Linked DNA regions of Homo sapiens. The protein of the gene in region 1 purifies or fractionates together with the protein of each later gene. This does not show direct contact. Each region holds a gene or a part of one and is shown in the gene's direction. Other genes may lie near its edges. The genes, in order: STX6, NAPA, GOSR1 and STX12.

The links.
Region 2: the proteins of STX6 (region 1) and NAPA purify together in Homo sapiens (affinity purification with mass spectrometry; 4 studies listed by BioGRID and IntAct, with this or other methods). This does not show direct contact.
Region 3: the proteins of STX6 (region 1) and GOSR1 purify together in Homo sapiens (affinity purification with mass spectrometry; 3 studies listed by BioGRID and IntAct, with this or other methods). This does not show direct contact.
Region 4: the proteins of STX6 (region 1) and STX12 purify together in Homo sapiens (affinity purification with mass spectrometry; 6 studies listed by BioGRID and IntAct, with this or other methods). This does not show direct contact.

What each region holds. Positions count from the first base shown.
Region 1 is NC_000001.11:180,972,199-180,977,873, reverse strand, and holds the end of STX6 (syntaxin-6), read left to right. Parts: intron 1-1,227; coding exon 1,228-1,304; 3' UTR 1,305-5,149; downstream 5,150-5,675. UniProt on the Homo sapiens protein: SNARE promoting movement of transport vesicles to target membranes. Targets endosomes to the trans-Golgi network, and may therefore function in retrograde trafficking.
Region 2 is NC_000019.10:47,491,054-47,498,082, reverse strand, and holds part of NAPA (alpha-soluble NSF attachment protein), read left to right. Parts: intron 1-2,486; coding exon 2,487-2,533; intron 2,534-2,938; exon of another isoform or gene 2,939-3,055; intron 3,056-4,481; exon of another isoform or gene 4,482-4,589; coding exon 4,590-4,667; intron 4,668-4,908; coding exon 4,909-4,964; intron 4,965-5,037; coding exon 5,038-5,122; intron 5,123-5,963; coding exon 5,964-6,068; intron 6,069-7,029. UniProt on the Homo sapiens protein: Required for vesicular transport between the endoplasmic reticulum and the Golgi apparatus. Together with GNA12 promotes CDH5 localization to plasma membrane.
Region 3 is NC_000017.11:30,515,408-30,522,436, forward strand, and holds part of GOSR1 (Golgi SNAP receptor complex member 1), read left to right. Parts: intron 1-4,531; coding exon 4,532-4,614; intron 4,615-6,846; coding exon 6,847-6,971; 3' UTR 6,972-7,029. UniProt on the Homo sapiens protein: Involved in transport from the ER to the Golgi apparatus as well as in intra-Golgi transport. It belongs to a super-family of proteins called t-SNAREs or soluble NSF (N-ethylmaleimide-sensitive factor) attachment protein receptor.
Region 4 is NC_000001.11:27,797,213-27,804,241, forward strand, and holds part of STX12 (syntaxin-12), read left to right. Parts: intron 1-4,465; coding exon 4,466-4,603; intron 4,604-7,029. UniProt on the Homo sapiens protein: SNARE promoting fusion of transport vesicles with target membranes. Together with SNARE STX6, promotes movement of vesicles from endosomes to the cell membrane, and may therefore function in the endocytic recycling pathway.

The sequences.
Region 1 (5,675 bases):
TCTTGTCCAGTTCTAAGACTTTGATATCCATAATATTTAAAATAATTTTAAGTACATGTTTTGCCTTGTGGAGAGTTTAGCAGTTTATTTTCATAGATTGAGATCTTTTTGCAACGTGATTCTCAATAACTATAGTGTGCTAAAATCAGTGGGCTTTCAAAGAAACTTTAGTGAATCAATATGTCTTTATATTTCTATTTAAATGGAACTCTTATTCCTAGTGGTTGTACTGCATTTTCATACGCTAGTGAATTCTGTTATCAGTCGGGCCCTTTGTGGAAGATGCCAAAACTCATCAGTGGAAGGACTGCTCATTTTTTCTACATGTCTCCAAATTAAGGAAGCATCCTGATGTTGACAGCATCCTCTGTGCCCTAGGTTTGGGTATTGCACAGTGTGTGTATGACAGGGTTGTGTTGTTTAATTCTCACAACAGCCCTGCGGGGCAGCTGTTGTAGAGTTGGGACCACAGGATTGTGAGCTGCAGCAGGGCTCCCCCAGGGCCTGTCTGGGCCCTTCTGTCTCACAGGGCCTCCCTGCTCTCAGCCATTTGGATGGACTCTAGTCAAGTTGTTTCCTGTGCCTGCTGTTCCAAATTGTTGGTAGGGCAGAAAGTTTCAGAAAAAAAATTCCACTTTCATTTACAGAGGAGCTGTACAAGGTACTTTAACACAGTTACTAGTTAAGTAATCTTACTTGACTAGGTGTGGTGTGAAATTAATCATGCTGTCTCACTGGAGCTTGCTTTTTCAGCTGTATATTTCCTGAAGTGACCAGCAGTAGCTTTCATCTCCTTTCCCTCCTCCCGTTGTGCTCATTGAGAAAAGAATGTGATTATTGTTTAATTAAATGACTTGACTTTTATGGGAGATTAAAGCAGGCAGGCTTTGATCTGTAACACCATTGCCAACACCTTTTTTGAGGATATGCTAACTACCAGCAGAAAGCTAAGATCCGCAGATTTTAATTAAAGACTTGAGACACAAAGCATGTAATTATTACGAGACATTTTCAGGGGACTGGCAAAGTTGTGACTGCATGCGAAGTGCAGGCCAAGAACAGAGCAGCATTAGAGCATCAGGCACCTAGGCAGGTGTAAGATCATGGCCCCGTCATTTGCACGTTCTGCCCCTTTTCTGCTTCAAAGGGTGCCATAAATTCCATATAACTGTATCTTGGGGAATGTGGAGTCCCTGTGAGAGCTAATCCCCATGTCCTGCCTTCCAGATCGGCGCCAATGGTGTGCCATAGCCATCCTCTTTGCAGTCCTGTTGGTTGTGCTCATCCTCTTCTTAGTGCTGTGACGGCGGGGCCTCTGGGTGCGAGTTCCTCCTGCATATGAACCGAGGGGAGGAGGAGAAGCTGAGCACGTGTGACATTGCCGTCTACTCACATTCCTATCCTGGAAACATACTGCTGCACTGACTTTTCTCCGTGTGACCCCACAATTGACATGGCTCCTCCATCCCAGCGCTGGAAGGGCCAGTGGGAAGAGGAAATAGATGTCTGCACTCCTGGCTGCAGCTGGACAACAGAAGCCCCATGCCGCCTGTCCAGTTCGGAGGAGAACTAGCTGCTGCCTTGCCTTCCGGGACCTCGTTTGCTGAGGAGGGACTTACAGACTCCACTGGTGTTTTGCTGTTGCTCATTCCATGCATCTTTGGCAGCTCTTTTCTTCTGCTCAGACCCTTCCCCGTGCTCAGACAGTGCACCGCTGTCCCATCTAAAGAAACCTGTCAGGAATACGAGCTTCTGGGTATGTTTCGTTTCCCATTGCTGTAGCATTTCTTATCCCCTGAGAGCTGATGATTATTGAGGACAGAAGGCTCAGAAACAGTTTGTGACAGAAAATGCAGTGTTTCATTTTTCAGGGATAAATGCTAAGATAAAATTGCTTTTCCAGGTCATTTTTTTTTGTGGTAAGAATAACTAATGGAAAATAATGAAACACCCTGGGGTTTGGGGGTGCTAACAACTTGTGGCTTTAACTGACAGGAGCAATTAAAAAGAGCAAGAGGGTTCTGCATTGGCATAGCTTAGGGAAGGGTTAATGATGTCGCCACAGGTCAGCTCCTGATCCTTGCCGACTTGATGTTGCTGTACCAGGGCTTCCTCCCCAGAGGTGCAGCTTGCGTTTTGAGGGTGATTGCTACATATGTTGTTGCTAAACAGCTCAGTAACACACTTGAATGAATTTGGATACCAGATTGTCCTCATTACAGTTCTTTTACTCTTAGGGCACTCTACACTGGGGGTTGGGGTTGGGAGTGGTTAGTACATTTATTACATTTATTAAGAAACGTAATGACATAAAAGGTTAGCTCTGGGCCAGACTTCTCTTACTCTGTGGGTAATGGCAAGGATGTGTAGGTAAACTTGGTTCTTTTTTTTCCCTAAGATGACAGCTTGATTTTATCATCTGCAGTCAAATAACTGAGCCAATCCAAATTTAAATGATAGATGCTTTAATTGAGTTTAAGTAGCTGAAACTGCTGAGACACTAAACTTTAACCTTCTGATGACTTTTTAAAATGCCTCAAATGTGCACATGTATATAGGATATTTTTATAACTTCCCTGATGAATAATCTGATATTAAAGTAGTATTTGGACCCAGAGCCAGAACTCGGTGGTGGAGGCTGCTGGTCTCTCCTCACCACCTTCTTTTGCACTTGGAAAGAACAGCAACATCTGGATAGAGTTCTAGCTTTGACTTCTCATTTCCTTGTCTTTTTGGGTGCATTCCTCAGCACACTTTTTTTTTAAACCTTTTTGTTTTGTTTTGTTTGTATTTCATGTGGTTTTATTTGGGGGTTTTGGTTTTTTCACCCTTTTTTGTGATTTGCAATGATGTGCTTGCCCAGCTAACTTTTGAATTGCACTTTTTAATAAATATTCTTAACAATTTTTGAAGAAGGATATTTTATCTCATTTGAGATCATGGTAGGTTAAGAAAATATGCCTGTTGATGAAAGCTAAAAGCAAATTTATGAAACTAAAAGGGTGATTGACATCCATGTTTACACTCCGCTCTAATGTTTGATATATAAATAAGTTATTTTCAAATTAGGAAAAAACAGTGAGTATTACAAAGGGCTTCAGATGTTTAGAGTACTAGGTTATTTATGTTTTACAAAGTTTGAATCTTCTATAAACTAAGAAAGGGGATGATCCTTAGATTTGCATTAAAATATAGAAGTCTTTTAAAGTAAATGTGAACCTTGTCTAAGTACTGTAATCCACACAACACATTATAAGAAGCAAACCAGCATCTTAAGGAATTATAAAATTACCCTATTTAAAAGCCATGCTATTGTTCTGCTATTACCAGATTTATTGTGCCACACAAAAGGATCATGTGTGTCAGCAGGGGCCGTTTGGAACAAACCTAGTCATTAATGAGTAAGATACTCCTGTTAGTTCAGGGACCAAGTTTTATGACCCAGAGGCTTAATGATGTTTGGATATATTTCAAATCGGCGTGCTTACCTCACTGATTTAAATTATTTTCTAAATAGTGGCCATTGTAGACCTGACTCAGGCTGAAGCTAAATAGAGAACAATTTAGAAAGTTAACTAACAATACAGTGCATTCTACCCGTAGGGCCACCATGCCCTTCTGCCCCTGGCTGATTTGATCCTGTGTCTGATCCCATTGCACCCTGACTGGGCAGTCCCTACAGAACCAGTGTTAATTTGAAGGGCCTCCACTCAGGCTCCAAATGTGGCAGCCAAAGAGAACAATCCAGGGAACCTACATTTATTTTTAAGGACAAATATTTCCTCCTCAGTGGTCCTAATGTTCAGGGCTTTAGAGGGAACCCAGGTGGTCTCTTCACCCTGTGTCCTAGAATGGGAGAGTAAGTAGACAGTGGTGATAACCCCACACTGCTTATAAGTGCATCTTTATAGTATTTGGGGCTTTCCTACCCCTTTAGCCTTCTGTACCTAGTACCATATTCCAGTTTTAAAGAACTGGCAGAATGTGATGGATAACAGAGGAAGAGCTCAATTTATGTTTATTGGAAGAACATTTTACTTAAATGATTTGAGGGGTGGGAGGGAGTGAACTACTGAGTTTGCCAGAGTGAAAATCCATCTGAAAAACTCAGCTACCTTTAGTTTTTAGTCCTCATTTTTGGTCTTGTCTCTGCGGACTGTGAAGAATCACAATGCTCTATATGCCCTGGACTGTGTGGCAAATGCAGGTTGCAGCGTGTGTGTTACATGAGGATCTTCCACAATTTCAGAATGCACGCCAGAGCTGAAGGGGGAAACTTGGTAACTTGCCCATTATTCTCTGCTTTTAGCCAGAGTTAAACAGACTGATGGGTCTGGTAGCCAACAACTTGGCAACTTCCACTCCTTCTCACCTCGTGAGATTAAGGGCTGTGAAAAGAAATCTAGTCTAACTCCAACAGAAATCTGTCTCTGTTAAGTGTTTTACCTTCTGTAAGTAGAGATGGTAGAGCCAAGATTTTTCTTTTGGTAATTTCCCTGTCTATAAAGTGAGACCAAAGGGATATCTGTTCCCTGTTACCTTTTTGGAGAATTCATAACATTTGAAGATCAAAAAATTGAATGATAAATATGAATGGCTTTTCAATTCTGTGGACTTTGTACCATTTGGCTTCACCTTGTACTGCAAGATGAATTTGTAAACAAAACAAAATTGGACTGTCTGGAAAGCTAAAGTTCTGAAATATGGAATGTACTGCCTCTAATTTTTCTTTGTCTTCCTCTCACTGGCATTTTTTTCTCTCCCAGGTTTCTTAAGAATAATGTTTTTTAAAGGAGGCTTTTTGCCCATCAAGAATAAAAAGAAATAAAACCAAAGGGTTACCGGACTTAAGCCCCCGCAGTCACTGTGCGCCATCCCTGAGCAAAGTCCGCCCCTGAGGACAGTGCCCCTGCCCCAGTGACAGGCCTTACTCCTCCCAGGGCCTTTGCTTCTAATAGGGGGTGGTCTTTCTTTTCTTTCTCTCCTTTTTTTTTTTTTGATTAAAAAATAAAACCAAACCAGAATTTGCTGAAAGCAGGTACCTTTCAGTAGCTCCGATCAGAGTAACTCAGCTTAGAGATACTGTTACTCAGGACAACAGTATGTACAAAAGTCTCCGGAAAAGGAAAATAAAACAACCTGAAAAGAATTCAACTTGAAAAGGACTGAATTACTAGAATGATCATATAGCAGAATAACACAAAATGCAACAAAGAGCCACCCAAGCCTGAGGGTAAGACCTCTACTTCCCAGATTCTTGGATCATAGCCCATGACTTCTTGGGGCACAGAGGCTGGCTTCAGCATGAGGATCTCACCACTAACTGCATGTAACTCATCCATGCCTTGGGCAGAGGCTAAACACACGGAACAAGGCCACCAGACAGGTACACATGAACCCATGAGAGCGGTGCTCTCTGTAGAGTCTATAGACCTGGCAGGGACCATGGATAGCTTAGAGGTACTTACTCTGCAGCTGGTCACATAAGACCCTAGACTGGCCAGGCGCGGTGTCTCACACCTGTAATCCCAGCACTTTGGGAGGCCGAGGCGGGCAGATCACGAGGTCAGGAGATCGAGACCATCCTGGCTAACACGGTGAACCCCATCTCTACTAAAAATACAAAAAATTAGCTGGGCGTGGTGGCGGGTGCCTGTAGTCCCAGCTACTCGGGA
Region 2 (7,029 bases), on another chromosome or scaffold:
CTCGCAGAGGGTGGCCTGCTGCCACCTTGGTGGCTCTGGGTGGGGAAGGGTGATGCTCATATGTGTTATTGGTTCCTCAGTTACCCAACCATGGCTGCTGCTCAGGGCAGACTCGGGCCAGCGAGGCCTCTTCCCAGGCCTGCCTGATAGTTGGGGGTGGGGGCAGTGTGTGTACCTGGGGCAGAGAAGCGACCTGGCCCCTGCTTGTCCCCCACTTCCTCCCCAGCTGCCATTTACTGGGTTTCTACTGTGTACCAGATGCTTGGCATCTTTTAACCCATTTGATTTCTTTGTGCATTCTGTGATTTGCCCCCATTTTACTAAGGAGGAGATGACCAAGTGTAACCAGGAAGGGCTTCAGAGACGCAGAAGTCAGGTTGGGCGTCGCTGGTAGGAGTGACTGCGGGGATGGGCGGTGGCCTGGGCCATAGCTCCCCAACTTGGGCTGTATTGCTCTGAGCCCCTTTCCAGCCCTCTGTGGGTGGGTACAGGAGGGGCCAGGCCACAGAACTGGGTGTTGCTCTGCCTGTCCGAGTGCACAAGGCCTGGTGACCTGAGATAAGAGTAGCAGTCATGAGTGTGTCAGAAGCTCGTCCAGGAGCCAGCTGTCCCAGGTGTCTGCTGGTGGCCCGCCGCTTTCCAGACATGGAGGGGACTTAACCCCGTGAGTCCATGTTGCTGCCTGGGGGGTAAGCTGTCTCCCTGCTGCTACTGCAAGGACTGTGCCATGCTGACGGCGGGTGCTCCAGAGCCAGTGCCAGCAGGCCCAGGTGGCAGCTGCAGATCTCACTGCTCACTGCGGAGCAGCAGCCTTTGCCGCCTCAGCCCACAGGGTGCCAGGTTGGTGTCCTGGGTGTTCCGGCCAGGAGAGTGAACCAGTGAGCAGCCCGGGGCCTCCATGTGGAGACTGCAGCCAGGTGGGGCGGGGCAAGGCGGGCCTCTCACCTCACTCCAGCTGCTGCTCTCCTCTGCAGCGTGGCCCGGCTTAGCCGTTGCTTCTGGGTCCGCCGATTACAGGATGTATGTGTCTTCAAACTGCCGGATTTAGGTTGTGTTCTCTCCCCTTCCTCCTCATCTGCCCCCTTTTTGCCACCGTTTCCACTGTCTGCTGCCACAGTCTCGGTCTGTCAGCCCTAGAACCTGGACTGAGTGCTGTACCTTCTCTCAGTCCCTTTTAGATCCCCAGAGGTCTTTCTGAATTGGACAAAACCTACAGACCCCACTCCCCAGAGGAGTGCTTATGGACCCCACTGTTTACATGTCAGAAGGAGGGGTTGGACTCCCTGAAAGCCCAGCCACAGACCTGAGACAAAGAGCCTCTGTCCAGATGCCTCCCCACGGAGGGAGTTTGGAGTCCCATCCAGACCGTGAGCCCCTTGAGAGGAGCCCAGCCCCGGCGCTTCTTGGTAGCACCCTCTTCTCAGGCGAACATGGCCTGGGTGACCATGGAGACCCCCACGGTGACCAGGAACTTTCAGATGCCCAGGCTGAAGCTCAGAGCCCATGCCCTGTGGCCTGTCCAAGCTCCCTGCCTTTCCCTCTCCCCAACCCAGGCCTCCCTCCCCACAACACCCCTGTCCTCCTGAGATGTGCTAAAATGGTGTTCTTAAAAAATACCCCCTGAGAGCTCATTTCTGTCTGCTAGAAAATGCCTCCCACTCATGCTTTTCTCTCTCCTCCAAATAACTTGTCAAAAAAAAGCCTTTCCCAAATTTAAAATCTTGCAAGAGATAGTACAACAAAGGTAGCCCAGTTCTTCCTCAGTGCCATCCTGGTGTGTTCAGGTTTTTTGGCAAAACCTTTGAGGAGCTGGTGGGTGGCAGGACTAGGTTAAAGGGACTGAGCAGAGGGCTCCCGACTGCTGAGCTACGAGGAAGAGGGGGCAGTGGAGAGCACACTGAGGGCTCAGTGTTGATGACATCCAGCCTCCTCGTGCCAGAGGTCCAGGTCCTCCTGGTGCAGGAGCAGAAGCTGCTCAGGATCCTGCAGAGATGGTGGCAGAGCCCAGGTAGAACCTGGCACCCTGTTGCCTCCAAGACCACCTCAGATGCTGGTTTGGCCGCCTCCCATGCCTCCTTCCCCTTTGCCAGCAGCTCAGTCCTTCAAGAGCAGGGCCTTGGCAGGTCTGTCTTAAAACACCGTGGGAGTCTGGCCATCATCCTGGCCTAGCACTGCTGTGCCCTGTCCCTGGGGTTGTGGGAAGCTGGTAGCATCCTGGCAGCCCGAGGAGAGAAGGGCTCCCCCAGAAGCATGTGCCCAGCAAGTCACAGTCTGCAGAGTCAGCCCTCTCACCAGATTTCCTGGGGCTCAGGGATTCCGTCCCCTTCTTCCCAGCCCCTTGAGAGTGTGTGGCAGCGCTGGCAGCTCTGAGCGCCTATTGATCTCTCTGCTGGCAGCCAGGTGCGCCTGCGTCCGCCTCCTCTCCTCAGCTTCTGCTGAAACGACTTCACTTTCTCATGTCTCCTCCCACCTCCCTTTCTCTCCAGAGGCCATTAACTGTTTGATGCGAGCAATCGAGATCTACACAGACATGGTAAGGGCTGCTTGCTTGTCCTGACACCCCCGGGTCCCACTGCATTGCCCCAGCCTTGCGTCCCCTCTTTCAGCACCCCCAGCACTGTTCTTATTCTGCGGCCAAACCACTTGGGGAGGGGGAAGTGGGAGCTGGGGGGATTAGGTCACCTGAGCTGGCCTGGGCTGGCTGGGTCTTCACCCAGCTCCCCACCAGCCTGACGGCCCCCTCACTCCACAGGCAGTCATGGTTTTCATTCATAGAACTTAGGTTATTGAGCTGGGCAGGGTGGCTCATGCCTGTAATCCTGGCATGTTGGGAGGCTGAGGTGGGAGGATCTTTTGGGCACAGGAGTTCGAGACCAGCCTGGGCAACATAGCAAGACCTCCTCTCTACAACAAATTAGCCTGGTGTAGTGGCATGCACCTGGGGTCCTAGTTCTTGGGAGGTTGAGGCAGGAAAATCGCTTGAGTCCAGGAAGTTGAGGCTGCAGTGAGCTGTGATCACACCACTGCACTCCAGCGTAGGCGACAAAACAAGACCCTGTCTCAAAACAAAAAAAGAAATTAGGTTACTGGAGAGTGTGTGTCCGGCACTTCCCCTTGCCCAGCCTTCCCGCAAGTGTCACATTTGATAAGCATCTTGCAGCAGGCCACAGGGATAGGCAGAGCCCACAGGAGGCTCAGCACCTGCCCTGCCCCCAGGGCGCGTTGCCAACGACAGATGCAGACCAGATGGGCAGCTGCCAACTGGAGCCAGAGTGAAGGGTCCCACCCAGGCCGGGGCTCCTGTCAGTGCTTTCTCTCTCTCTCTTTTTTTTTTTTTTTTTTTTTTTGAGACAGAGTTTCTCTCTCATCTAGGCTGGAGTTCAGTGGCGTGATCTCCACTCACTGCAACCTCTGCCTCCCAGGTTCAAGCGATTCTCGTGCCCTAGCCTCTCGAGTAGCTGGGATTACAGGCGTGTGCTACCATGCCTGGCTAATTTTTGTATTTTCAGTAGAGATGTGGTTTCACCATGTTGGCCAGGCTGGTCTCAGACTCCTGACCTCAAGTGATCCACCTGCCTTGGCCTCCCAAAGTGCTGGGATTGCAGGCATGAGCCACCGTGCCTGGCCAGCTCCTTTTTGCCTCTCCGCTTGCCCTGTCTGTCTCAGCCCTCCAACCCCAGGCAGGGACACGAGCCCTACCCCTTGCGTTCAGGGCAGTGCTGCAGGGATGACTGTGATTAGAACAATAATAGCAGCTGCCATTTATTAGGCCAGACACTGCAGGGTGGTTTAATCCACAGCCCTGTGAGGTTGGCATTATTGTCATCCCCGTTCCTTAGTGGAGGAGAGGGGCTCAGACAAGTGACATGATTTGCCCAGGGACATGTGGCTACAAGCAGGAGTCACTGAGACCCGAAACAAGGTCTGGCTGAGCCCAGGGCCTTGCCCTTTCCTACTGCCCTCAGCAAGGGGGTGGCGTTGGACCAGCCCCTGGTGCAGAGCAGTTAGGCAAGCGCCTGGACACTGGGTGGAGGCGGATGGAAGGTGCGAGGCCCCTTGGAACCTGAGGCCTCCCTGGGGAGCTCTGGGTGTGCCTGGGGGAGGCTGACAGATAGGTGTTGGCCTGGGGGCAGAGCTGGTACTCTTGGGCAGAGGTCTCAAGCCCTCCCTCCCATCCTGGTTTCTCCAGAGCCCTTTGCCAAGTGGCTCTGGACTGGTCCTTCCGCCTCTCTGGCTGTTATCAGAGGCTTCCTAAGGGCCAGGGCCTTGGCCAAGTGCTCGTGCTCACATTCTCTCTGGTGTCACACCATCTGTGCCCTCGTGGATGGGATGGAATTAGGCTAAGGCCCTGGAGTGGCTTGTCCAACATCACCCGCTCAGCCCAGCACGCATAGCCAGGCCTCTAGTGCTGGGGCCCTCCCTTCTCACTCCTGTGTTCCCCCACCTCTCGATCTTCTTCACACCTCAGGTCTTCTTCATACCTCCTCACAGGCGTGGCTGAGGGGTGGGAACTTGAAGGGTCATAGGTCAGCAGGCAGGCACGCAGGAGGTCATGAGTCGCAGGCAGCCCCTTCCTGTGTCCCCTCCAGGGCCGATTCACGATTGCGGCCAAGCACCACATCTCCATTGCTGAGATCTATGAGACAGAGTTGGTGGACATCGAGAAGGTGAGTGGCAGCAGGGCCCTGCATGGGCTGGCAGCCAGGACCAGTGCTGCTCTCTCTTCTTCCCACCAGGGGAGTCCTCTGGTGTCTGAGTGCCGAGAAGGGGGCATGGGGCGCCGGCAGAGCTTGGAGAATGGGGTCTGGCTGTGTCCCAGGCAGGCAGGGCGGAGGGTGTGGAAGCTTCACGGAGGCCTCCTCTCCCTTCCCTGCCCTCCCCTGGAACCCATCCCCCGTGTCTCCCCAGGCCATTGCCCACTACGAGCAGTCTGCAGACTACTACAAAGGCGAGGAGTCCAACAGGTAGCCCCCTTCCTGCCTGCCCCAGCCCCGCAGGGACCGCCACCACTTCCCCTCACTACTCCTCCCCACACAGCTCAGCCAACAAGTGTCTGCTGAAGGTGGCTGGTTACGCTGCGCTGCTGGAGCAGTATCAGAAGGCCATTGACATCTACGAACAGGTGGGGACAGGTGGGGATGGCGGCTTCCACCCTGCCCCCTCTCAGGGCCTGTGCCTCCTCCTAAGCCCCGGCACCTTGTTCTGGAACCACCCCTCCCCCGGCTCACCCTCTGCCTCTCCCCCGACATCCCTTGCCATGTCATCCCCCCACCCTGTCTTCAGCCTGGCTGAATGTTCTCCACCTACGACTCCATGCCGTGCCAGCACCGTCTCTCTCCCTGGCTGTGCCCCTCCCACACCCCTCGCAGAGCTTCCTGGAGGGGCCCAGAGTGAGGCTGGCTAAAGAACCCAGAGGGAGGGAATGGGAAGAAGTGCCAAGAGGCCCAGGGTGGCCGTGGGCACCCCACCCCATGGCCCGATGGTCCTCATCCACAGTGGGAGGGAGGGAGTGTCACATGGGGTCCCCCCAGCGTGCACGGAGCCCTGGGTGATGGCCGAGAAAAAGGCAGGCAGCTGGCCCCCTGGGAGAGAGGGGCGGGCGCCGCCTCTCATGTTCCCACCGCCTGCCGCCGCTCTGCCCACCGCCATGCCAGCCTCCCGTTGGTCCTGACAGCCAGGCTGCCTCCTTCCCACTGTCTCAGGCTCTCAGAAGGCCCACGAACACCTGGCTACAGCCTCCACCCCCACCCAGCCACCATCACACCCTGATCTTGGTCGCTCACGCACTGGCCGCTGACCTCTCCAAGCTGGTCCCTGGCTCCCTGCCCTTGGGGTCCTGGGTTAACAGGGCCTCACCTCGGGACATGAACCAGCTCCCAGCTGGCCCCCCAGTGCCTGGCAGTGGCTCTGGCCCTCTGGCTGCTTGCCCTGAGCTCACCAGTGCCACTTCTCCATGGCTACAGGTGGGGACCAATGCCATGGACAGCCCCCTCCTCAAGTACAGCGCCAAAGACTACTTCTTCAAGGCGGCCCTCTGCCACTTCTGCATCGACATGCTCAACGCCAAGGTAGCACACCCCACGCCCGCAGGACCACCGCACCAGGCCACCATGTGCTTATCTCCAGGCCAGGTCCCGTTGCCCCCGAAGAGGGACGTGCTCCTCCCTCACGTCTGGCCCCTGCCAGCCAGCCTTTGGATGAGAAGTGTGGTTCTCACAGCTGTGTTTCTGTGCTGGCATCACCTGCCCACCCAGCCCTGGAGGCTTTTGCGGGTCCAGCTCCTGCCTCACTTAGTGCTCTTTCCTTCATGGGTGCACTTTTTGAATCCTCACTGCACCCCATTAAAGTCAGCACCATTGTCACCGCGTCTTATGGGTGAAGATGGTGAGGCTGGGACGAGAGTCCCTTGTTTGAGGCCACATGACTAGGGACCTGCAGCCCCAGTGTTCCAGATCTTTGTGACTCCTGCTGTCGTGGCTTTAGCTGTAGCTCACACATGCCCACCTATTTTCAGGACACTTGGCAAAAGAGGGGCCAAAGAGGGCAGTGGGAGGGGGCGTGGCCAGCGGGAAGGAGCTGGAGGGTTGGCGCTAGATTTTGCTTGGCCGGAGTTTTTTTACCATTGCCTGGCAGAAGCACGGAGTCCAGGATTTCCTGGTGTCCCTGGCTCACGGCCTGGGGTGGTGGCCCCACACACCCCACACACACACACCCCACAGAGCCCTGCCCTGCTGTGGGCACCGGTGGTGGGCAAAAGCTTGGGCTTTGTCAGACCAGGTTCCCATTCCCACCCCATGTCTCACCGTGCCCTGGGCAGGTCACTGCCCCTCTCTGGATCTGTTTCCTCACTTTGAAAAGGGGGCTCACCGTCATTTGACCCTCTCAGGGTCCTCAAGAAGCACCAGCCCCAGGCCTGGCATGGAGGATGTGCTCATTTGTCCCCTGCCCCAGCTGAGCCAGGTGGGAGGAGGCAGTGGGTGCCTATCTGGGGAACCTTCCCCCTCCACCCACCTCTCCCTGCAGCCATCT
Region 3 (7,029 bases), on another chromosome or scaffold:
TGTTAGGCCTCACCATGCGTGATCAGGCGGACCTGGCTGTTTCACTGGGGACTTCAAATTGCCAGACCTCTATGTCTCTTCTCCTGAGCTAGGTCTTCTACTGGACTAGGGGCAGCCACCTAGCTGCATGCGTTAGGAAGGGCAATTTTGGGTTATGGCAACTCCTTGTACAAATTTCTACAAATCTCCATTTTTAACCCTACTCCACAGTTCTGCCCTCAGAGAGAGTGATCCCTTCCATTCTTGAGCATTTCTGAGATCTGTGGAAAACTTTTTAAAATCATTGCTTGACTCATAATTTTATTGAGGTGCATCACAGTGGTGGATTTGGAGCTGCTAATGTATTTTTTTGTTTGTTTTAGTTTTACCCAGTTACATTTCTTTATTCTGAAATGTCATTTCAAAAGACCAGACCATAATATCTCCACATGAACAGATATTTTTCTAGAATAGGCCTAAAAGTATTGGGAAGATGGGATTGTCAGCATTAAAACACATAGGAAATCAGGACCCTGGAAGAACTGTAATATTCTCTAGGACTTTTCATTTTCTAAATTTGCAGATATTGCCTGTGATTTCAGTTGAAAGTGATCCAAATCCTAGTGTGTCCATGTTAATTGTGTGTGTAGCTTCAAATGTTATTTAACGTTTCTTAATCAAGTGGAATTTTTCTAATGTTTTCATTTTTCTTTTATTAGACACTTGTATATTGTATATTATACAAGTACAGTGTTCTTATTGTAACAACTTAAATAATACTAAAACGGATAAAGAAAAAGTCAGCCGGGCGCGGTGGCTCACGCCTGTAATCCCAGCACTTTGGGAGGCTGAGGCGGGCGGATCACGAGGGCAGGAGTTCGAGACCATCCTGGCTAACACGGTGAAACCCCGTCTCTACTAAAAATACAAAAAATTAGCTGGGCGTGGTGGCAGGCGCCTGTAGTCCCAGCTACTCAGGAGGCTGAGGCAGGAGAATGGCATGAACCTGGGAGGCGGAGGTTGCAGTGAGCCAAGATCGCGCCACTGCACTCCAGCCTGGGTGACAGAGCAAGACTCCGTCTCAAACAAAAAAAAAGAAAAAGAAAAAGTCAGTCTCCTGGTAGTACCCCTCCATTCTTAACCCCTGAAGCAACTTGTGTTAACTGACAGTTGTGTATCCTTCTGATACCTTTTTCACTGTCATACAGACATCCCCAAAGATGTTTGTTTCTGTAATTATTAGAGGATTCATATTCTATACATTCTGTGGCTTGCTTTAATCACTCAATATGTTATAAACATCCCTTCAAGTTAATAGAAATACTAACTTTGTTTTGTTTTGTTTGAGACTGCGTCTTGTGTTGTCACCCAAGCTGGAGTGCAGTGGCGCGATCTCAGCTCACTGCAACCTCTGTCTCCTGGGCTTCAAGTGATTCTTCACCCTCAGCCTCCCAGTAGCTGGGATTACAGGCGCTCACCACCACGCCTGGCTAATTTTTGTATTTTTAGTAGAGAAGAGGTTTCACCATGTTGGCCAGGCTGGTCTTGAACTCCTTGGCCTCAAGTGATCCACCTGCCTTGGCTTCCCAAAGTGCTGGGATTACAGGCATGAGCCACCGCGCCTAGCCCTAACTCATTTTTTTAAATACCCAAATACTATGTAATCACTGCCTGTGATTTCAGTTGAAAGTGATCTAAATCCTAGCATGTCCATGTTAATTTTGTGTGTGTGTGTAGCTTCAGATGTTGTTAACATTTCTTAATCACTCAGGTGGGATTTTTCTAATGTTCTTTTCATTTTTCTTTATTAGATATTTATATATTATCGAAGTACATTTGTATATTATCAAAATGTTCTTATTGTAACAACTTAACTAATACTAAAATGGATAAAGGAAAAGTCAATCTCCTGGTAGTACCCCTCCATTCTTAACCTCTGAAGTAACTTGTGTTAAGTGACAATTGTGTATCTTACTGATATACAACTTTTTCACTGTCATACAAACATCCCCAAGGGTGTTTGTTTCTGAAAATATTACAGCATTGATATTCTGCACATTCCGTAGCTTGCTTTAATCACTCAATATGTTATAAACACCCCTTCGTGTTAATAGAAATAATACTAACTCATCCTTTTTAATAACCAAAGTATGGTTATATCATAATCTATTATACCATTCAAATGTTACTTCCAGTTTTGGGGGATTTTTTTTTTTTGGTCTTTTTGCTGTTGTTGTTCATTTTTTACTATTCCAAAAATGCTTCAACAAATATTCTTTTACAGATTGAATGTTGCTTATCCAAAATACTTGGGACCAGAAGTCTTGGGGATTTCTGATTTTCAGATTAGGGATGTTCAACCTGTATATACCTCCTTACACACTTTTGTTTCTCTTTTGCCATCTCAAATCTTGAAATTCAAGTTTTGATTCATGTGTCATTTGTTTAGAATATTCCTTCTAGCATTTCCCTTCAATAAGATACATGGTGGTTTACTCTGTGAGACCTTACCTGGCCAAAAATGTGTTCACTCAGCTCCCAGATAGATCCAGCTATGAGAGCCTCTTAAGCAATGGCATATCAGGCAGTGATGCATCCATCACTGGGCTCTTCCCTTAGGGGCTGGGCATCACACCAGCTACAAGACTATCGGCTCTCTGCTTGTCATCTTTCTGGCTGCATGTAGCAGTCCTTTCCCAGCTTCAGTGCCTGGGAGCAATTTCACTGCAACCCCTGTGTATGCAGATCCATAGTCTTCCACTGTCTGGGTTCCTCAGGAAGCAAGGAAGCCCTAGGTCTTTGCCTCAAGCTTGAAGAAAAATCTAAGCTTCCCTGCTGTCAGTTCCCTGGTTCTCTCTTCACTTCAGAGAGTATAGCCCTCTACCTGGCTTTCTTCCCTGGAGATCTCAAGGGAACTTGGGGCCTCAGATGGACCCTCCTTAGTGTGTCTGCTTTTATTCTTGTGCTACTCCATGGAGGAAATGGACCAAAGGTCAAGTCAGGAATTTATACTCTCACCATCATCTTCCCCAAATCTCAATCTCTTGATTTAAAAAAAAAAAAAAATAGATATTTTCAAAATTGCTCAACAGCATTTCATTTTCTGTTGCTATTTATAATGTCAACATGCAAAGCACTCCTCTGAGTGTTACATATCAAAGTGGATACTGACCCTGCCCTCTAGGGCTCTAATGTCCAGAGAGATAAGACTATGGGAAATGAATAATCCTGGAAGTGATAGCAAAATGATACTAACTTAGGGCCAAGCTTGGTGGCTCACACCTATAACTCCAGCACTTTGGGAGGCGGAGGTAGGAGGATGGCTTGAGCCCAGGAGTTTGAGACCAGCCTGGGCAACATAGGGAGACCCCATCTCTAGAAATAATTTAAAAATTAGAAAAAAAAAATTAGCCAGGCATGATGGCACATGCCTGTAGTCCCAGCTACTCAGGAGGCTGAGGTGGGAGGATTGCTTGAGCCCAGGGAGTCAAGGCTGCAATAGCCACAGTCACACCACTGGGCTCCAGCCTGGGTGACGGAGCAGGACCCTGTCCCCCAACCCCCAACCCCCCCCAAAAAAAGGATATTAACTCAAGAGATCTTTTAAACAGGACATCAAGGTAGTCACAGGGAAGAGATTGTGTTCGACCAAAAGTGACTTTCTCTTTTCTCTTTAATCTTTTCTTTTTTTTGAGACAGGGTCTCGCTCCATTATTCAGGCTAGAGTGCAGTGGCTCCATCACAGCTCGCTGTAGCCCCCCCCTCCTGGGCTCAATTGATCCTCTCACCTCAGCCTCCCGAGTAGCTGGGACTACAGGCACACATGTCTAGCTAATTTTTTATTTTGGTAGAGTTGGGATTTCACCACATTGCCCAGGATGGTCTTGAACTTTTGGGCTCAAGTGATCCTCCCACCTCGGTCTTCCAAATTCGGTGCTGGGATTACAGACGTGAGCCACCACACCCAGCTGTTTTAGCCACGTTTAATGAGTCTGTGACCTTTGTCAGCCATCATGGAAACCCAGCATAATGTTGCATGCATGCCTAGTTGGTTCTCAAGTAGAATTTTGGAACATAATCTCTTCATAAATTAAGGGCTGGTTGTGTATTCACATTTTATGATATTTTATATTTCTTTTCTATTTTTATAATTATAATTCCCTTTCAACAGTTTTTCCTGATTAAAGATATTTTAGTAGCTGGCTTCTTTTTAAACTCTTTTTAAACTTTTTAAAGTTTTTAAACTTTAAATTTTAAGAAGCTTTTGTAATATGTGATTTGTCTGTTTATGCCTTATTTTGTTTGTTATTTTGAAGCAAACATAGGAAGTGGCTTACTGCCTTGTATAAAAAGATATCAGAGAACAGTGGAGTCATTTGGAAAAAGCGCAGTGGTAAAGTGGCTTCGGAAGTGATTTTTTCCCCTTATTTTCTGGCACAGTGCTTTCTAAGATGATGTTGCTCACTGTAGTTTTCTTTCACTTTTAAAGGCATGATGGTTCCAGGCAGGATAATCTTAAATGGTGATTTGTCATCTTTTTTTCCCCTTGCAGCATTGCTATGGCAACAAAAGAAAATATGACTTCACAGAGAGGAATGTTGAAGTCAATTCACAGCAAAATGAACACTTTGGCCAGTATCCTTTTTGAATGTTCGCAGTCTGTGTTTTGAGGGTAGAGGGGAGAAGTGTCTGTGTGTGCTTTTATAGGGGGCAGGTTGCCATCATCAGTAGCAGTAGAGCCCATCAGTAATTGCATAATATGAATATACTGTGCATTCCTACTTTGTGAAAGTTTATGCTCTTTAGTACCATTCCTAAAAGACTGCACCTCAGAAGTTTCTTACTACTAGATGTAGAAGAAAAAAATTATAAATGTGAATTTAAAAATTATCCACCAATTTCTTCTACATTTTAGAAAGCTTTTAAATTCATGTTAGAACTCCACACTATACATTATTCTTACCTAAACATGATAAATTATATGCCTTTGTTGTTTTTCCCATTTAGAGATAAGTCAGTGGCAGATGCTTGGAAGGGGGAAGGAAGGAGACAGCCACCCGTGCAGATGAGCTATAGCTACTGATGGAGTTTGTAACTCTATGCACAGGCTGAATTCTAGGATACATTCTCCACTTGTTTGTTGTAACCTCTACTTTAAAATGTTTCAGTTTTCTGTTTTAAATTAGGATTATTAATACTTCCCAGAAACCCACTAGGGAACCAGAAAAGCCTGGCACTCTGAGTCATTTCATTCAGCGAACCTCTGAAAAGACAAGCCTTCTAGGCAAAAAGCTTTCCTCCCCAACTGCCAAAGGGGGAGGAACCTAGAATTTTCAAAAGCTGAGTATCTTGTAGTCCTAGATAATTTGAGTTCACTTTTAGTTTGATATGTCTTTGCCTAAGGAAAAGACTCTCCTGATGTGTGCTGTTATTCTCCAGTCCACTGTGAATTTTGTTCTTGCCTTGTCACCCTAAGTATAAAACCACATGTCTAAAATCACATTTTAGATAGGGCTATAAAATTTACAGAGTGCTGTTATATACATTATCTCATTTTACTAAACTATGAACTCAATTGCCAGCCAGAAAAGCTGATCAGTGAATTTAAGAGTTTGTATTTAGTGAAACTTTTGAAACTTTGAAATAGAAGTGTGAGTCAGATAGCTGATGATTTAAAACACTAAAGCCTTTCTCAATTGTTCATTAGAATTTACCACCACTCTTCTTTGTGACCTCTTCTCTACTGCTCTGTAAGCATCTCTCCCATAAGTTCTCTCTCTCTTTTTTTTTTTTTTTTTTTTTTTTTTTTTAAGACAGAGTCTCACCCTGTTACCATCCAGGCTGGAGTACAGTGGCACGATCTCAGCTCACTGCAACCTCCAGCCTCTCAGGTTCATGCAGTCCTCCCGCCTCAGCCTTCTGAGTAGCTGGGACTACAGACACGTGCCACCATGCCCGGCTAATTTTTGTATGTTTTGTAGAGATGGGGTTTCACCATGTTGCCCAGGCGAGTCTCAAACTCCTAGGCTCAAGCAGTCCTTCAGCCTTGGCCTCCCAAAGTGCTGGGATTATAGGTGTGAGCCACCCTGCCCAGCCCAACACTAAGTTCCCTTAAGGCAAAGTAGTATACTGGAACCTAGCATAGCGCCTCATACAAATAAGTCACATGGGAATTTTACAATTACTCCAAAAGAATGTGTTCAAAAAAAAAAAAAATCAAAAAAAATGGGTGTGGGTCAGGGCTAAAGTTTAGTCCACTTTCCTCCTGTATCTGCCTTCTGCTGCGAAGTAACTTTGAAAATATTAATAATTCACCAGTGTCTGATTATATAGACCTTAGAGTTGGTTCCCATGAATTGCCTGAATCTAAGGCGGGAAAAGATCAGGTATTTCTTCAAACTCTCAGGCAGAACTCCCCAGTCTCCTGAGAGAAGAGGAAAAGAGAAGGAAAATGAGGAAAGGGAGGGAAATGGGTGGTGGTGGCGATGGGAGCTGGCTATGCCTGTGCCTCCCTGCCAGAGTTCCTCCATTCCTGGCCACGCTGGCTCCCACCCTGACCTGAAGCCTGGCAGTAAGCCCTCAGTGCTTGGGAACTGTCATCGTCCTTTTCTTCTCCCTCTCTCTCTATTACTATTCTTATTTGTGTTACACACAAGACTGGGAGATGTGTATTGGTTAGGGGCCTTGAGCCGCAGCGCGTTCCCGGTTTGGGCAACTGCATCTGCTAAAGATTCCCTTGGTGTGAGTTTCTTCCCCATGCCTTTCATCACTGTTTCTAGACACCACTGATCTCTATTTTTGTGATTCCTACGACTTTTCGCCAGAGAGGCTTCTTCCAAATATGACCTTAATAAAGATTTCCCAAAGATCGTTTTCCTGCTGTAAACAGCCTGATCCAGAGGATCAACCTGAGGAAGCGGCGGGACTCGCTCATCCTAGGGGGTGTTATTGGGATCTGTACCATCCTGTTGCTGCTGTATGCGTTCCATTGATGGGACATCTTCAGGGACTCTTGACAGCCACCGCTTTCACACCCTGGTCTGGAATAAG
Region 4 (7,029 bases), about 150 Mb from region 1:
CACCACGCTAATTTTTGTATTATTAGCAGAGACAGGGTTTTGCCACGTTGGCCAGGTTGGTCTTGAATTCCTGACCTCAAGTGATCCGCCTGCCTCGGCCTTCCAAAGTTCTGGGATTGCAGGTGTGAGCTACCATGCCTGGCCTATTCACTTTTTTTCTGTTTCCTTTGATCCTCTTGCCTATCCCGTCTGCCCTGAAACTTTCTTCTTGCCATGATTCTCTTTCATTGTGTCCCCCAACTCTGGAGATCCCCAGGTTGAGTCAGCCTCCTTCCCGGACTTCATATCCTCCTAAGAGTGGGCATGCCCCAAGGTTGTGCCATTGATCCTCGAATTATTTCACTGTATGCTTTCTCCTTAGGAGTCACCTGCTTTTATGACCTCCCTTTCACCTTTATGATCATGACCTCAGATCTTTTTCCAATCTAACCCCTTCACCTCTAAGTGCGTGGCCCATATCTTCAATTCATGTTCTGACATCTCCTCCTGAAATAAACTACCTTCATATAAAACTTGTCTTATACTGAGTTTCTCATGTTTCTCCCAAACCCCTTAACTAAGTTCATTGACAATACTTAACATCACAGAAAAGTTTGTGCCTTTTGACCTAATATTCTCACTCATGCTAATTAGCCCTAAGGGGAAAAAAAATTCTGAAGGTAAACACACACACACACACACACACACACACACACAGAGTCTATATACTCTGGAGCCAAATTTCCTGGATTTAAATCCATCTTTGTCACTTACTGTGTGATCCTGGGCAAATTACATAGCCTCTGTGGTGCTTTGGTTTTCTGATGTGTAAAGTTGGGACTATAATAATGCCTAATTTATAGGTCATTGTATAGATAAATGAATTATTATGTAAAGCACTTACAGTAGTACTGGTACAATTTAAGCACTATATAAATATTAGCCATTACATTGGGGCTTACTTTATAATATTTAATAACTGTGAAAAATCTAGAAGGATTATTTACATAAAATTTAGGTCAACTTGATGGAATATATGTAAGCGATTAAAGATCATGGCCGGGCACAGTGGTTCACACCTGTAATCCCAGAACTTTGGGAGGCTGAGGCGGGTGGATTGCTTGAGTACAGGAGTTTGAGACCCAGCCCGGGCAACATCTCTACAAAAATTAGCCAGGCACGGTGGCTCATGCCTATAATCCCAGCACTTTGGGAGGCCGAGGTGGGCGGATCACCTGAGGTCAGGAGTTTGAGACCAGCCTGACCAACATGGCAAAACCCCATCTCTACTAAAAATACAAAAATTAGCCAGGCGTGATGGTGGCCACCTATAATCCCAACTACTCGGGAGACTGAGGCAGGAGAATTGCTTGAACCCAGGAGGCGGAGGTTGCAGTGAGCTGAGATTGTGCCATTGCACTCCAGCCGGGGTGACAGAGCGAGACTCCCTCTCAAAAAAAAAAAAAAAAAAAATCGCGCCACTGCACTGCAGCCTGGGTGACAGAGCGAGACTCCATCTCAAAAAAAGAAAAAAAAAAAAACTCGTGCCACTGCACTCCAGACTGGACGACAGAGCGAGACTCCGTCTCAAAAAAAAAAAAAAAAAAAAAAAATTAGCCAGGCATCGTGGTACACATCTGTAGTCCCAGCTACTCAGGTGGCTGAGGTGAGAGGATCATTTGAGTCTGGGAGGTTGGGGCTGCAGTGAGCTGAGATCACACCACTGCACCCCAGCTTGGGTGACAGAGCAAGACCCTGTCTCAAAAAAAAAAAAAACAAAAACATAATTGTGAAGAGTATGGTAACATGGAAAATGTTTATGATGTATTTAAAAGTTATGATAATATTTTTGCACGGTAAGGTTAGGGAATGATGTCCTCCCCGTTATTGTTATAATTTTGTTTATGCAAAAATAAAAATCTCAGAAGAAAAGGGTTGCTCATCTAAATTTGCTTTTAGTATTACCATCACTCTTCCAGGTTTGAAATTTCAGTCATTCTTGACTTTATCTCTCTTTCCCCACCACCAGTCAAAATGTTTCTTAAATTCATTTCTTTATGATTTTATTACTGATACTGTGTCCTCCTAACCTTAAACCTAGACTATTGAATTAGTGTTCTGTTTGACTTGTTTCTTTTTTCCATTCCACCTTTGTGTAAACGGTGACCCAGGTCTCATCACAGACTAATTTTTCTAAGTTACTATTTTGTACCCATGATGTTTCTTGCTCAAAAATCTTCATTGCTCTTTGTTCTTTAGAGGTTGAACCCCAAACTCATTAGCTTGTTTTTTTTTTTGTTTTTTTTTTTGAGACAGAACCTGGCTCTTTTGCTCAGTCTGGAGTGCAGTGGCGCGATCTCAGCTCACTGCAACCTCCACCTTCCAGGTTTAAGCAGTTCTCCTGCCTCAGCCTCCCAAGTGGCAAAGGACTACAGGCGCACGCCACCACGCCTGGCTAATTTTTTGTATTTTTAGTAGAGACATGGTTTCACCATGTTAGCCAGATGGTCTCCATCTCCTGGCCTCGTGATCTGCCTGCCTCATCCTCCCAATAGCTTGGCGTTTTGTTTTGTTTTTTGAGACGGAGTTTCACATGTGTTGCCCAGGCTGGAGTGCAATGGCACGATCTCAGCTCACTGCAACCTCCACCTCCTGGTTCAAGCAATTCTCCTGCCTCAGCCTCTCAAGTAGCTGGGATTACAGGTGCCTGCCACCATGTCTAGGTAATTTTTTCTATTTTTAGTAGTGATGGGGTTTCACCATGTTGGCCAGGACGGTCTTGAATAATTCCTGCCCTCAAGTGATCCACCCACCTTGCCTTCCAAAGTGCTGGGATTACAGGCATGCGCTACTGCGCCCGGCCTAGCTTGGCATTTAAAACCTGCTGTGGTTGGCCCCTTTCTTAACTTTCCAATTTTGTATTTTAGCTACTCTCATTACTAAACGTGTAGTTCCAACCAAACAGTCTGTCTAGAGATCCTCTTCAAGTTCTGCCACCATGCCTTTGCTCACACTATTCTCTTGCTTGGATTTGCCTTACCCCTTCTTTCTGCTTATTCATGCCTTCCTCTTACTTCACTGTCCACCTTCTCTTGAGGCCTTTCTTGGCCGCTTGAGTTCTTACTGATTATTCCTGCCCTCTGAACTCCTGTAGTACCAATTGGATATAGCAGTTATTTATAATAACTTTGTTACTTGTCTGTCTATATCCTTTATTTACAAATAGACAGCTGTTTGAGGTCAGGGGTGAGTTTTTACTTCTGTGTTCATAGAACAGGACAATGCTGTCAGTATGTGGTGTGTGTGTGTGTGTGTGTGTGTGTGTGTGTGTGTGTGTGTGTTTTGTTTTGTTTTTTCAGACAGAGTTTCACTCTATTGCTGAGGCTGGAGTACATGGCATGATTTCAACTCACTGCAGCCTCAACCTTCCAGGGTCAAATGATCCTCCTGCCCCAGCCTCTGAGTAGCTGATGTGTACCACCACGCCCGGCTAATTTTTTTATTTTTTGTAGAGATAGGATTTTGTCATGTTGCTCAGGCTGGTCTTGAACTCCTAGGCTCAAGTGATCCTCCTGCCTCAGCCTCCCAAAATACTAGGACTATAGGCATAAGCCACTGTGCTCAACCTCAGCATATGTTTTTTGAGACATAGAAGTAACAAGCTTAGTAGAGGTAGTCTGTAGATAAATGAAGTACTTACCAAGTCTCAAAGATTTTAAACCACTAAAAGCCTGTGAAATGCTTCTATAGTTTACAGGGAAGCTGTGAATTCAATATAGATGAATAGGGTTTTAACATTTTAGCTAAAACCCATCTCTGTTTGGATTCAACTGGAGTCCAGAGGTATTTATTCTCTTTTATATTCTCCAGGGCACCAAAATTCTGAATTGCAGTTCTTTGGAGATTACTTTAGAAGTTAAATACAGGCTGGGCACAGTGACTCACGCCTGTAATCCCAGCACTTTGGGAGGCCGAGGCGGGCAGATCACCTGAGGTGAGGAGTTCTACAATAGCCCGGCCAACATGGCGAAACCCCATCTGTACTAAAAATACAATAAAAAATTAGCCAGGTATGGTGGTGGGTGCCTGTAATCCCAGCTCCTCAGGAGGCTGAGGCACAAGAATCGCTTGAACACGGGCGGCAGAGGTTGGCAGTGAGCTGAGATCATGCCACTGCGCTCCAGCCTGGGCGACAGAGCAAGACTCCGTCTCAATAAAAAGAAAAAAAAAAAAAGAAGAAGAAGTTAAATGCAACCCAGTTCCAGGTTTGTCAGAATGAAAGAAGAAAAATTCTGACTTGGTCTATAGTATTAACCAGGGACTTGAGCTAGCAAAGAGCAAATTTATTAATTTAAAGAAGAGACTATTTCATAATAATTTTCCTAGTTGGAAATCTTTAAGGGGTATAATTTTACTTTTAAGGGAAATTAAAACCAAATGATTCTGGGTTAATATGAAATCTCAAGTTCTTGCTTGATTTCCTTAGCGCCAGCAGAGACTTCAGAAGGAACGCCTCATGAATGACTTCTCTGCAGCCTTAAACAATTTCCAGGCTGTGCAGAGAAGGGTATCTGAAAAGGAAAAGGAGAGTATTGCCAGAGCAAGAGCTGGATCTCGTCTTTCTGTAAGTTGATTCCCAAAAGAAGACCTTTGCAATATCAGAATGTTCTTTTCCAAGTTTGTGGGTTTTTTTCTTTTTCTCTTTGACCAATAAACATGTAAGTTAGCTGCTGTGAAAATGGCAGGTTGGTGTAACCTATGTAAAAAACATATATGCATGTGATCAAAGCCTAGAAAGGAATCTGAATGAAGGTTAAGAGATATAGGAGGAAGAACTATGTCTAATTTTCTTTTTCATTTTGATATATTGGTTTTAACGTTAAAAACTTGAAAATAAAAATAATGAATCTGTTTCCTGGAATATAACAGGCTAGTTTATTTGGACTAGCCCTCTGTTTTTGAAAAGGATTTTCAAATACTGGATTTTAAAAATCCAACTTCTCAAAAGTATCAAAGATTATGAAAATATTAAGGTAAAGCCTGAGAGGTCAGCAGAATACTGAAACTGCTTTTGCATTGAATGTCTTTACTGAAGGCAAACTTGAACTTCAGTTTTGATATCCTCATGGCATGGGGAGGATAAAAGTCAAAGCCAAAGGTCCATGCAAGAGAGAGAATATAAAAGAAGGTACAACTCAAATTAAACTGGGCCCTAAGAGACTATATCCTTAGAACATTAAGTCAAAAGTAAGCTCTTCTATCCCCCGGCAGATTACAGAAAGATTGCATTAGCACTGAACTGAGCAGATGGAGGAGGAGGGCAGGAGGGAGGAGAAATCTAGACAAGGTTACCACAAAGTAACCTTCTTCAGGCAGATTTTCTGCTCAAATTCATCCTACCTGAATGGTTCAGTGGTCCTGGACTGGGAGAGCCACCTATGTGTGGGATAGAAGCAAACACAAATTCCTTCTGTAGAAAGACACCTTTATCCTAGCCCTGAAATAATACTCTCAAATAATTTTTCTAGGGCAGTAAGTACCAGTCACTAAAAATAACCATGTGTGCAAAGAAACAAATTACTCTGAACAAGAATTAGTAGAAACAACAATGAAGTGAAATATACCTACAAAGACTTTTTATATTAGAATTATAAGACAACTATACTTATTGTGTTTAAAGACATAAAAGGCTGAAAACCTCTGCAGGAAACTACACAAAGATTTGAAAAAGTGTCAAAAGAATTTCTAAAATGGAAAGATATAATATAGAAATTTAAAAACTTAGTGGATGGGTGGTTTAACTAAAAAATTGGTTAGAATATATTATCCAGCATGTAGCATAGGGGGTTAAGAGGTTAAATACGGAAGAAAGATTATGAAAAATGGAGAATGGAGAGAAAAGATCTAACGTAGTTTTAACTGGAGTTATAGAGTGAGAATAGGGCAAACATAGAACAGAGGTGATATTTGAAGAAATAATGAGTGATAATATTCTAGAACTGATTAAAAACACTAGCCTGCAGTTTCAAGAAGCCTAACAAATCCCAAGCAGGATAAATAAAATCTCTAATCTAGATACATCAAAGACAAACTTCAGACCAGAGACAAAGAGAAAAATCATAAAGATAGCTAGAGAAACATTAGAATACCTTCAAAGATACAATAGTTAGATTGACAGTTGACTTCTCAACAACAGTGGAAGCCAGTAGAGTGCTATCTTGAATGTTGATGAAGGACAATAACTGCCTACCTAGGATTCTAAACCCAGTGAAAATATATGTCAGAATGAGGGCTAATTAAAGACATTTTCAATCAAAAGAGAGTTTTCTGTCAGCACATCTTATTGAAGGAAATTCTAAATAATGTATTTCAGATGGAAGGAAAGTGATCTCAGATGGAAAGTCTGAAAAGCAGAAAGAAATGAAGAACAAAAAAAGTGGTAAAGATGTGAAAAGACTAGTCACAGGGAGAAGACATTGCTATATATATTTAATAGCAAAGGACTAGCATTTAGAATATATAAAGAATTCGGCCAGGCGTGGTGGCTCACACCTGTAATCCCAGCACTTTGGGAGGCCAAGGTGGGCAGATCACGAGGTCAGGAGTTCAAGACCAGCCTGGCCAACATGGTGAAACCCTGTCTCTACTAAAAATACAAAATTAGCTGGGCGTGGTAGCGCGTGCCTGTAATCCCAGCTACTCTGGAGGCTGAGGCAGGAGAATCGCTTGAACCAGGGAGACAGAGGTTGCAGTGAGCTGAGATTGTGCCCCTGTGCTCCAGCCTGGGCGACACAACAAGATTGTATCTCAAAAAACAAAAAACAAAACAAAAAAAACCCCAGAATTCCCATGAATCAATATGAAAAAGAAAGATACAACTCAATAGAACAAAAGTTGTCAAACTTTTTAATCTCAGGAACCCATTACACTCTTAAAAATCATTAAATTCTGTGGCCGGGCGCAGTGGCTCATGCCTGTAATCCCAGCACTTTGGGAGGCCGAGGCGGGTGGATCACCTGAGGTCAGGAGTTCAAGACCAGCCTGGCCAAC